Regions from separate parts of the Homo sapiens genome. Here all the other regions are linked to region 2. The links come from fine-mapping of genetic effects on gene expression. A gene starts in region 2. Each other region holds a variant in brackets. All regions are shown on one strand. Distances are from middle to middle.

Region 1 (2,692 bases), 52 kb after region 2:
CCCACAGTCACCAAAACAGCATGGTACTGGTACAAAAATAGGCACATAGACCAATGGAACAGAATAGAGAACACAGAAATAAACTCAAATACTTACAGCCAACTGATCTTTGATAAAGCAAATGAAAACATAAAGTGGGAAAAGGACACCCTTTTCAACAAATGGTGCTGGGATAATTGAATAGCCACAAGTAGGAGAATGAAACTGGATCGTCATCTCTCACCTTATACAAAAATCAACTGAAGATGGATTAAGGACTTAAACCTAAGACCTGAAACTATAAAAATTCTAGAAGATAACATTGGAAAAACCCTTCTAGACATTGGCTTAAGCAAGGGTTTCATGACCAAGAACCCAAAAGCAAATGCAATAAAAACAAAGATAAATTGCTGGTACCTAATTAAACTAAAGAGCTTTTGCATGGCAAACGGAAGTCAGCAAACAGCCCACAGAGTGGAAGAAAATCTTCACAATCTATACATCTGACAAAGGATGAATATCCAGAATCTACAATGAACTCAAGTAAATCAGTAAGGAAAAAACAATCCTATCAAAAAGTGGGCTAAGGACATGAATAGACAGTTCTCAAAAGAAGATATACAAATGGCCAGCAAACATATGAAAAAATGCTCAACATCACTAATGATCAGGGAAATGCAAATCAAAACCATAATGTGATTCCACCTTACTCCTGCAAGAATGGTTATAATAAAAAAAAAATCAAAAAACAGCAGATGTTGGCATGGATGCAGTGAACAGGGAACACTTCTACACTGCTGGTGGGAATGTAAACTAGTACAGCCACTATTGAAAACAGTGTGGAAATTACTTAAAGAACTAAAAGTAGAACTACCATTTGATCCAGCAATCCCTCTACTGGGTATCTACTCAGAGGAAAATAAGTCATTATTCAAAAAAGATACTTACACATGCATGTTTACAGAGCACAGAGTTGCAACCCAAATGCCCATCAATCAATGAGTGGATAAAGAAACTGTGGTATATGTATACATGATGGAATACTATGCAGCCATAAAAAGGAATGAACTAACAGCATTTGCAGTGACCTGGATGAGATTGGAGACTATTATTCTAAGTGACGTAATTCAGGAATTGAAAACCAAACATCATATGTTCTCACTGATATGTGGAAGCTAAGCTATGAGGATGCAAAGCAATGAGAATGATACAATGGACTTTGGAGACTTAGGGGGAAGAGTGGGAGGGGGGCGAGGGATACAAGACTACAAATGTGGTGTAGTGTATACTGCTCAGGTGATGGGTGCAACAAAATCTCACAATCACCACTAAAGAACTTACCCATGTAACCAAAACCACCTTTACCCCAATAACTTATGGAAAAATAATCCAGCACCACATTAGGTTTAGTCGGACTTAGCCAGCTTGGCTTACACCCTGGTTTTTCAGGTTCTTATCA[G/T]TCCCAGTTTATGCAGCTGTTTCAACATTTTCCTTTTGCTAGTCATGTGAAACTGCTGTCTGGAATTTTCTTTTCTCCTGCTACCACCCTTTATTATTCTTGTCTCACTTTCATCTTCATCCCTACTGTTACATAAATGCATCTTGATTTCTAGGCAAGCATTTGTCAAATTCTCATTAGGATCTTCCTCAGGGTCTTTTGTTCTCCTTAGTTTCTTTGGCTTTATAGTGAAAGAACATTTTTCTTTTATTGTCACTAACAAATACTTCTTGGTCAGTTGTCACAGTTCCCCTTGTCCTTGAGGTCAATATATATATATTTTTAAACATTGTAATTAAATATGCTGACTGGGAAGGAGTTCAGATGTCTTACTAGTTATTAGATACTTTCTTTCCCCATGAACTGCACGGGAGGAACTTTGGTTACAAAGCTTGGCCTCATCAGCTGACTTGAGGTTGATATTTAGAATTTATACGAAGCACTTTCTCCCTTAAAATAACTGGCAATAAAACTGTTGCTTTGTAGCGTATTTCTTAGGCAGCCACATATATACCTGTAAGTTAGACAAGGATAGGTGCTTCCTTTGTCAACAAATAGCTTTTGCAGAGCTGAAGCTAACTTGTATCAATGACTAGACATTAAGTGACTGTGATCTGCGCTCCAAGCTATTTCCATAATCCAAGGCATAGAAAATGGCAGAGAAGCTTGCAGTATCTGTTACCTCCTGTTCTTTTCTTGTGTGTCAAGGTCTTTGTGTGTCACCTTCATTTTATTTTACATTTTAATGCGTCCATTATGTTAAGTGGTGTTTCTTAAAGCTAATTCAGGATGACTGTTATTTAAATATGCATACCAAGAAGTTCTGACTTACCAGCAAAGAAAAAAAAGGGTCTTTATTCAGAGAATGCTAATGGAAAAATAATTGAGGTTTTACTCTGTGTTTAGGGACATCCTTCTGGAGAAATCAGTACATAAAACCTGCCTCCATCCATCTTTAATTATTACAGTTCATTTAATATACAATTTGCTCAAAGCCTCTATGCCACAGTTGAAAAGAAGATGGTTTTATGTGACTTGGAAATAGGTCTATTACAGTTTATGCACTACTCGGATATGGTAGAGTCTAATTTCAGCTTAAGCTCAGTGTATTTAATCAGTATCTTAGAGTGGCCTATTCAAAATGCTGCCATGTAAAAAGCTAAAATGGATGCAGCTCTTTCTTCCCTACCCTTAGCAATCATCAAATTGCCTTTC
Region 2 (2,692 bases):
TGGGTGTACATCCCCCCTGTGGTTTTGCTCCTAATATCCAGGGGGGAAGAGATGATATTACTGACAATATCACAGGGGGTGTACACCTCTTCTGTGATATGGTTCCTGATATAAAGGGGGAAAGTGGATGATATTACTCTTAATAACGTAGGAAGTGTACACCCACCCTGTGATTTTGTCCCTAATAACCTCATGGGGAGAGGTGATATTACTCCCAATATTGCAAGGGGTGGACACCCCACAAGTCATATTGTTTCTTAAATCCAGGAAGGGAAAAGATGGTATTACTACCAATATTCAAAGGATGTACAGAACGCATTTCTTATTGTTCTTAATATCCAGGTCGAAAGGAGATAACATTACTTTTAATATAATAAGGGTGGTACACCCTGCCTGTGATATGATTCCTAAAATCTAGAAGAAGAGAGAATGATATTACTTCCAATAATACACTGGGTGTGCAACCCCCTTTGATATTGTTCCTAATATCTAAAGAAAGAGATGATGATATTACTCCCAATACTGTAGAAGGTATACACCGTCCTGTGATATTGTTCCTAATAACTAGTGGGTGAGGGCATGATATTATTTCAAATATCGCAGTGGCTTTACACCCCTTCCGTGATATTTCTCCTAATTTCCAGGGGGTGGAGTACGAAGTTACTCCCAATATAGTAGTGGGTGTACACCCACGCTGTCACATTTCTACGAATATTCAGGGAAACACAGCACGATAGAACTCCAAGTCTCGCAAAGAGTGTACACCATTTTGTGATATTGTTCCTAATAACCGGAGGTGGATAGGATGCTGTTAGTTTCAATATCGCAGGCTGTGTACACACACACTGTGAAATTGTTTCTAATGTCCAAGAGGGGAGAGAATGCTATTAATTCCCATATAGCAAGAGGGTGAGGCACACCCCGCCATATGGGGAGTAATAGGACCCCCCCTCCCTCCCTGGCTACTACGAGCCACATCGCTGGGGTGTGAGGCACCCTCCTGCCATATGGGGATTAATAGCGTCCCCCTTTCCCCCCCGACTATTACGATCCACATCGCAGGGGAGTGAGGCTTCCCCCGCGATATGAGGAGTAATAGCACCGCCCTCTCCCCCTCAACCCCCCGGCTTTTAGGATCCACATCGCAGGGGGGTGAGGCACCCCCGGCGATATGGAGAGTAATAGCACCCCCCTTCTCCCCCCCCCCCCCCCCCGGCTATTACGATCCACATCGCAGGGGGGGTGAGGCAGTTCCCGTGATATGGGGCGTAATAGTACCCGCTGTGCGTCCTGGTGGCTCCGGACCCGGCCCAAGCGCGGCGGGACCTCCATCCGTAGCCCTCTCCCCCAACGTCGCCCTCCCGGGGTCCTTGTCTAGTCTCAGCAGGCGGCAAACGGACCCCAGGCGTCTGGCGCTCACCCAGGAGACTGCCCAGCGGTTTCTGGAGAGAGCGCTAAGCGGAGACGCCCGCTGGCAAGCAGATCCCGCCTCCTTCCCTGGCCAAGGAGCCGCCCCTCCGGGGTAGCTGTGCGCTGGGCGGCGCTCGGACCCCTTGGCAGCCGCAGGTGCCTCCCCAGCCCAGCCCAGCTCAGTCCAGCGCAGCCCAGCCCAGCCCAGCCCGGCGCTCGCAGCCTCCGCCGCTTCCGGGCAGATAGGTGCCTTTTCTTGCTCCTTGCTCTTGGAGTTCTTCTCTTAGTCCCTGTTCCCTGGATGAAAGCATCGCTCCGAGCCTCATGGGAGGAATGAAGGAAGAATCGAGACTAGGTGAGTGGTGGTCTAGATTTAACGAATAATAACAATAAACCTGCATACTAAGGGTACTGTTGGGAAGCTAGGAAGTGCAAGGAGAAGAGAAGACAAAGGCTGCTGATCAAGATAACTCACAAAACTAAATGCAGGCTAGGGCCAATTCCAGCTATTTTGCACTCCATCCAGGTTCCCCTGCCTGGCACTGACTCATGTGCAGACCCAGACAGACTTCAATAAATATTTGCTGGGTTGAGACAAGTGAGTGGAGGTGTTTCTGCTTGTTCTCCAGCATCTAAACAAGCAAAACCTAGCTGCCTTTGATGATTGCTTCATCTCCACAAGGACTTTTTCCCCCAGGACTTAAAAAATAAAATGTGGTGTATTCACACAACGGACTGCTATGCAGCACTTAAAAAGCTAAAATCAGAGCTGTAGGGATCAGCATGCCTGTACCTAGATTTCAGAAGTATGATGGCAGATAGACACAGCAAGATGCAAAATATATCCACTCTCTCATGCCATTTAGGTGACTTATTTTAAGACACTTGTCATGTTTGTAAAATCATAGAAGGGGGACTGTAAAATGTTTATCACATCCGTGATTGTGGCTGTCTTTGGAAAGTGTGAAAGGGAAATCAATTGGACTTTAGGATTAAGGTGGAAATAATATTTCCCTAAAATGCTTTAAAAATAAAAATGATGATATAAAGATGACCAAATATAAACAATTGTTAACTGAGAGTGTTATTAACTTGGGCATTTTTCATGTTTTTGCCCCCTATTTTTAAAATATTTCTTAAACTAAGAAGTTCTGTTTTTCAAATGCAAACAAAATAAGTTGTGTCTATGCACATTCTGTGACAATGAAACCTAAAATGTTTAATCAAAAGTTGCAACTTTCTTGCATCACCTCCTATGTTTTCCAATCCTAGAAGACCACAC
Region 3 (2,692 bases), 64 kb after region 2:
TTTGAGCATATAAAGGATTTCAACTCATTTCAGATCTGATCACAGCTGGAATGCTGTTTAGCTAATTTCCTGCATGTTAATATTTCAAAGATATGATGAGATTTGTATCTGCAAGGGATTGTGAAGTCCAGCAGGGCATTTGAAGGATATTGTCTGGGCCGGGCATGGTGACTTAAATGTGCTGGCTTAAAATCCCAGCACTTTGGGAGGCCAAGGCGGGTGAATCACTTGAGGTCAGGAGTTTGAGACCAGTCTGGTTCACATGGTGAAATCCCGTCTCTACTAAAAAATACAAAAAATTAGCTGAATGTGGTGGCACGTGCCTGTAATCTCAGCTACTCAGGAGGCTTAGGCAGGAGAATTGCTTGAACCTGGGAGGTAGAGGCTGTAGTGAGCTGAGATCACACCACTGCACTCTATCCTGGTGACAGAGCAAGACTCTGTCTCAAAAAAAAAAAAAAATACTATCTGATGTTGGGTCAAGAAATCATCAGTGTCATTCATTAGACCTGGTATAGACAAAAGTTTGTTGGATCTGTATTTTTATAATCTCTGTAGTATCATTCTTGTTCTGTAGTTGTTTCATTTGTTCTCTCTGTTTAAAAATTATCTTCCTAGGAGATGGATGGGAGCTGAGGGAATGAGCAGAAAGGGATGAGTTTAGATCACAGGAGTAGGAGGAGATGGAGCAGTTAGAGGTGAAAGAGAAAACCTCCAAAATCTTATTAAATTTAGAAATAGTTTCAAACATACTTTTGTTCACCTCTTGAATGGAGGCAATTTTTTCTTTTAGGATTTCTTTTAGAAACTTGTAGGTACTATTGGAAGTAAGTCTCTCACTCAATTTGGTTCTAAAACTAGCTTTTTCTAATTGTGTGTGCAAACAAACTAATTTAGGTATTTTAAAAGGTACCACATTTTGGCCATTGTCAGTTGGAATCATTCTGAGTTATGCTCTACTAGTTTTCTAAATATTTGCATGAAGAGGCATGGTAAGTATTCAGTATGAATCGAGCTAGCATTTCTAATGGTGGATCTCTTCTTAAGGAGGAAACCTCAGTTTTAGATAGTTGAACTGCCTTCAGAATCTGGCCAGTTTTAAAAACTACGCTTGTTTTTTCTTAAGCCACAAAGATTTACTTATTTTTCAAGAGAAACTATATTCTTCTTGGCCAAATTTTGTATTAGAGGAAAGGTTACAAACTCTAATGAATAAGACAAAGAAAACCTTAACTTCAGAGAAAAGTGAAAATCACAAAACAAAGTAAATATAATCTCTAGAGAATAACACATGAAACTCCTGTCTTTCAGTAGAGTTTCAATTCCAATCCCGCAGAGTTAAGAATGTGTATGGCTTGAATAAAGTCTGAATCCTCAACTAACCTGGGAGTATTTGGATACCGAGATGGCTGCCAGATCTGGTGAGGTTGGGTGAACCAAGCTGTTGATTCTGGTACTGTTACAGGAAAGCAGTCCTGATCCATACCCCAAGAGAGGGTTCTTGGATCTCACGCAAGAAAGAATTCAGGGCAAGTTTGCAGAGTAAGGTGAAAGCAAGTTTATTAAGAAAGTAAAGGAACAAAAGAATGGCTACTCCATAGACAGAGCAGCCCTGAGGACT[G/A]CTGGTTGATCATTTTTATGGTTTTTTTAATAATATGCCAAACAAGGGGTGGATTATTCCCTTCCCTTTTTAGATCATATAGGGTAACTTCCTGACATTGCCATGGCATTTGTAAACTGTCATGGTGCTGGTGGGAGTGTAGCATTGAGGACGACCAGAGATCACTCTCATCGTCATCTTGGTTTTGGCCGGCTTCTTTGCCGCAACTTGTTTTATCAGGAAGGTCTTCATGACCCGTATCTTGTGCTGACCTCCTATCTCATCCTGTGACTTAGAATGCCTTAACTGTCTGGAAATGCAGCTCAGTAGGTTTCAGCCTCATTTTACCCAGCTCCTATTTAAGATGGAGTTGCTCTGGTTCACACGCCTCTGACAGTACCAACATTCCAATTGTCACGAACTTGAGGGGATCACTGAAGCTCCACTTTAGATCCCATCTGGGGTGGTAAAATGTCAACGTGAAACAAGATTCAGAAAATATGATTAAGTATAGCATTTATTGGGGCTCAAAGCTTGAAAATTGTTATCCGGGAGCATAGATTCAAGTTGCCCTGAATATACTCCAATTAACAGCAGCGACAAGTGGGTTTCTACGGAAAAAAGAAGAGGCAGTTTCTAACTTGTTCGCCAAAAATTTACGTTAAAGTAACGTAAGCTATTGATAGGCTACACGTTATTCTTTGTATCACAAATTCCAGGATCACGATGATAATGAGCCAGGCAGCTAGTCAGAAACAAAATCCCAGGCATCAGTGTGGGGATATGACTGAAGTCCCATACTCCTGTCTCTCTGGGCCTGACACATTTTGCATAGTTCATATAGCTCAGCCTTCTCTGAGCTATTTCTCTCTTCTCAGTGGCTTTCCTGGAAGCAGCCTCCATCATATGTGACTCAGAGTGCTAGCATTTCTTCATGGGTTTATAAACCATAAGAACTCAAGGTGGCCTTCAGAGCCACAGCATCAACAATATTAACTTCCCTATTAGTAGTGTTCTATTACTTTGGGTTTTACATATATTATCTCATTTATTCATCATAACAACCTGGTTGATAGGGATTATTATTCCCAT
Region 4 (2,692 bases), 94 kb after region 2:
CATGCCCAGCTTCAAATAGACATTTTAATTCTGACAGTGTTCTGATAACCAGGATTTTCTGCTCTCAGAATACCAGATATCAATTTGAAATGGTGTCAAATAGCTTTTTAAAAAGTGTACATGGTAAAAGAAGCAGTGATCCCTTTGTTTAAGGAATTTAAATGATAATAACTTTGTCAATCTGAGACTAAGAACTCCTGGGCCAGAGAGTGCAAAAAGCAATACAGAAGAGATACAGGCTTCTGAATACTGTAATTCTTTTTTAAACCTCCTTCTTCAAAAGAATCAGCCCGATTCATGTTGTACTTGAATTCAAGATAACAAAACACCTTTTAGTTACTTAGAAAGATTAGATTGTAAAATATGTGCTGAGTTCCTAGAAATTAAAAGTGAGAATGAAAAAAAGAATCAATGAAAGTACAGTAGATCTCCCGGACAAGGAGAGACCATCTGCATAAAACTGAAGATATAAAATATGTGACTTCCTACTTTTAGATTAAAATCTACATTTTGCCTTTGGACATGGTAGAAGATTCAAAATTACCCGTAAACAGTCAGCACTACGTGGAAGTAGGAGCAGCAGTAGGCTGCTGTTTGCTTAGGGTTTCCTGGGTACCAGGCTGCCTGCTAAGCACTTGTGAGTTATTTCACTCAGTCTTCCCATAGCTCCAGGAGGTTTATGGCACTTTGTCCCCATTTCACCTTCGATGAAACTCTGGTTCTGAAAAATTACTTGCCCAAGTTTGCATGGCTATTAAGTAGGGAAAGCATCATGTTTAGGAAATGCAGAGCTCTTCACCACTCTCCAGCCTGCAGATGCTCAGCATGGCTGCAGCTCTGAGGGGAGCACGGGACACCTATGCATGGCCACCTGCCTCAGGCACCCACAGACGAAAGTGGTACATGTGGAACGGACAGACAGAGAACAGCCTAAAATTGGAAGCTAAATTGTGTGAGAAAGACAAGTACTTCAGAGAAGATAGTGTGGAGTCGCAAAATAAGTTTCATGAGAGCTCATACAGAAAACAGCCTAAAACTAGAAGCTAAATTGTGTAAGAAAGACAAGTACTTCAGAGAAGTTGGTTGGGAGTAAGAAAGCAAGTCTCATGAGAGCTCTGAGGGTGTAAATGGGACTTTTAACAGCCAAAGCACACAGCAAGTCTAGCCTAGCAAGAGGAGCTCAATGGATGGAAGTCCTCACTTGTTTCCCTGTGTTAACATAGAAGGGGGTCTTTTTAAAATTTTGTTTTCACTTCAGCTTTTCTGCCAGAAATGTCTAGTGTAGTGATGTTTTAAAAAAAACCATAAGATCTGTTTCCGCCACAAATCCCCATTAAGACATAAATGGAGTTTTATTTTGTGGATGTTTAAAAATCCATGGACTTGAACTTTTGGTAGTTTCCCAAATATGTAGAATATTCAGCTAGTTTTCTTCAATTTCAGAATCTTTCTTTTCTATC[G/A]TTGTTAAAGACACAGGGTTGCATAATAACCATTAAGTTTGAATTGTGCAATTAGACAACTTTCTTATTAGTCAAGAAGTCAAACTTTTTGTGTGAGTACAGCTTGAAAATCAGCTTTAGTTTCCAAAGAATGGCCAGTTTGAAGTATAATATTCTCTTTTGCTTACTTGAAATCTGCAAATAAATGCTTTAAATTAGGGACAAAGTGATTATTTGCTTTTATTTAAAAAATAAGGGAAACAAAACTCATTACAATCTCTTCTACAGGGTTAGTACTATTCTATTTGTTGATTGCCTCAGCCTCTCCAATGAACAATCTGGTGGAAAGTAATTATTTAATATTATAATCCAAAGACAAATTTCTGTTTACTCCCTTGTCAGATCTTAAAGTAGACTCAATTATGAATTTAAGCTAATGAGATGGATTGTATGGGACAATTAAATAGTAAGTCATTTTGGGTCAAAATACCATTTGAGAGGATGGTTGATTGTTTTTTCCCTCTGAGAATTACCCCCCACTATAACGAGGTTATAACTCACTGTTTGCTAAATTTTTATAGGAATGAGATAAAAAATCTGATTAGAGTAATTTGTGCAAGTAATTACAGTACAACAGAGAGAGTTGCAAAAATTTCATTTCCCATTGAGTACCGAAATGTTGAAGAGAAATAAAAGAAGATTTATGGCTGTGTAGAAAAACACAGGATGGTATTTTTATTTATCACCTTTGCCTTCTTTGCTGTTCTCATTGGAACCAATAACTGATTCCAGATTCATCTTAGGGACTGTATAAGATGCAGATAGAAATTATTTCTCACACATGACCTCTTGGGCTGGAGTAGCTGCTTATGAGATGTTCCTATCATTCTTCTAGAAATCAGTACCTTGACAGTGAAGAAAAAAATCTTAGGAATAATGCTTCTAGTCCAAATATTTATTCAAAAATTATTTACTGGGTACCTATTTGCCAGTGTTCTGAATGCCAGGCTCCCATGGGGAAGAAGACAATCCCCCTGTCATAAGAAGTTGTTAATATTATAGTGTGAAAAATAGTCAAGTAAACACTTCAACATTAATATCAAAAGGCTTTTAAATGTTGTGGCATGTGCCATAAAGAATGAAAGCTGTTATGTGCATATCCTGAGCGATGCATGTGTGCCTGCATGCACGTGCACGCACGCACACACACACACAATATGCTTAGTTGCGTCTTCCCAATGCTCATGGTTATA

Direction of the effects. Positions count from the first base shown, and alleles are read on the strand shown. Sizes are in standard deviations (SD) of each study's normalised expression. Not every link is listed here.
In carriers of allele T in region 1, the expression in pancreas of the gene that starts at base 1,592 in region 2 tends to be lower than with G alone (small effect, 0.37 SD a copy in GTEx).

Evidence for each region. PIP is the estimated chance that this variant, and not a neighbour inherited with it, causes the effect. A credible set is the group of variants that fine-mapping cannot tell apart.
Region 1: its variant is the best candidate, but not a certain one, in a credible set for the expression of STK32A in pancreas (GTEx, PIP 0.89).
Region 3: its variant is the best candidate, but not a certain one, in a credible set for the expression of STK32A in thyroid (GTEx, PIP 0.54).
Region 4: its variant is the best candidate, but not a certain one, in a credible set for the expression of STK32A in tibial nerve (GTEx, PIP 0.89).

The regions. Positions count from the first base shown.
Region 1 is chr5:147,285,062-147,287,753 of GRCh38, forward strand. All of the region lies in intron 4 of STK32A (serine/threonine kinase 32A), which reads left to right. Among named protein-coding and RNA genes, the nearest start is that of STK32A, 51 kb to the left of the region's middle. The variant G/T (reference allele first, on the strand shown) is at 1,439.
Region 2 is chr5:147,233,435-147,236,126 of GRCh38, forward strand. It overlaps STK32A (serine/threonine kinase 32A), which reads left to right and starts at 1,592. Exons shown (of 13, transcript NM_001112724.2): 1 at 1,592-1,765. STK32A-AS1 (STK32A antisense RNA 1) reads right to left here and starts at 1,425. Exons shown (of 4, transcript NR_147190.1): 1 at 1,279-1,425.
Region 3 is chr5:147,297,532-147,300,223 of GRCh38, forward strand. All of the region lies in intron 4 of STK32A (serine/threonine kinase 32A), which reads left to right. Among named protein-coding and RNA genes, the nearest start is that of STK32A, 64 kb to the left of the region's middle. The variant G/A (reference allele first, on the strand shown) is at 1,622.
Region 4 is chr5:147,327,008-147,329,699 of GRCh38, forward strand. All of the region lies in intron 5 of STK32A (serine/threonine kinase 32A), which reads left to right. Among named protein-coding and RNA genes, the nearest start is that of STK32A, 93 kb to the left of the region's middle. The variant G/A (reference allele first, on the strand shown) is at 1,461.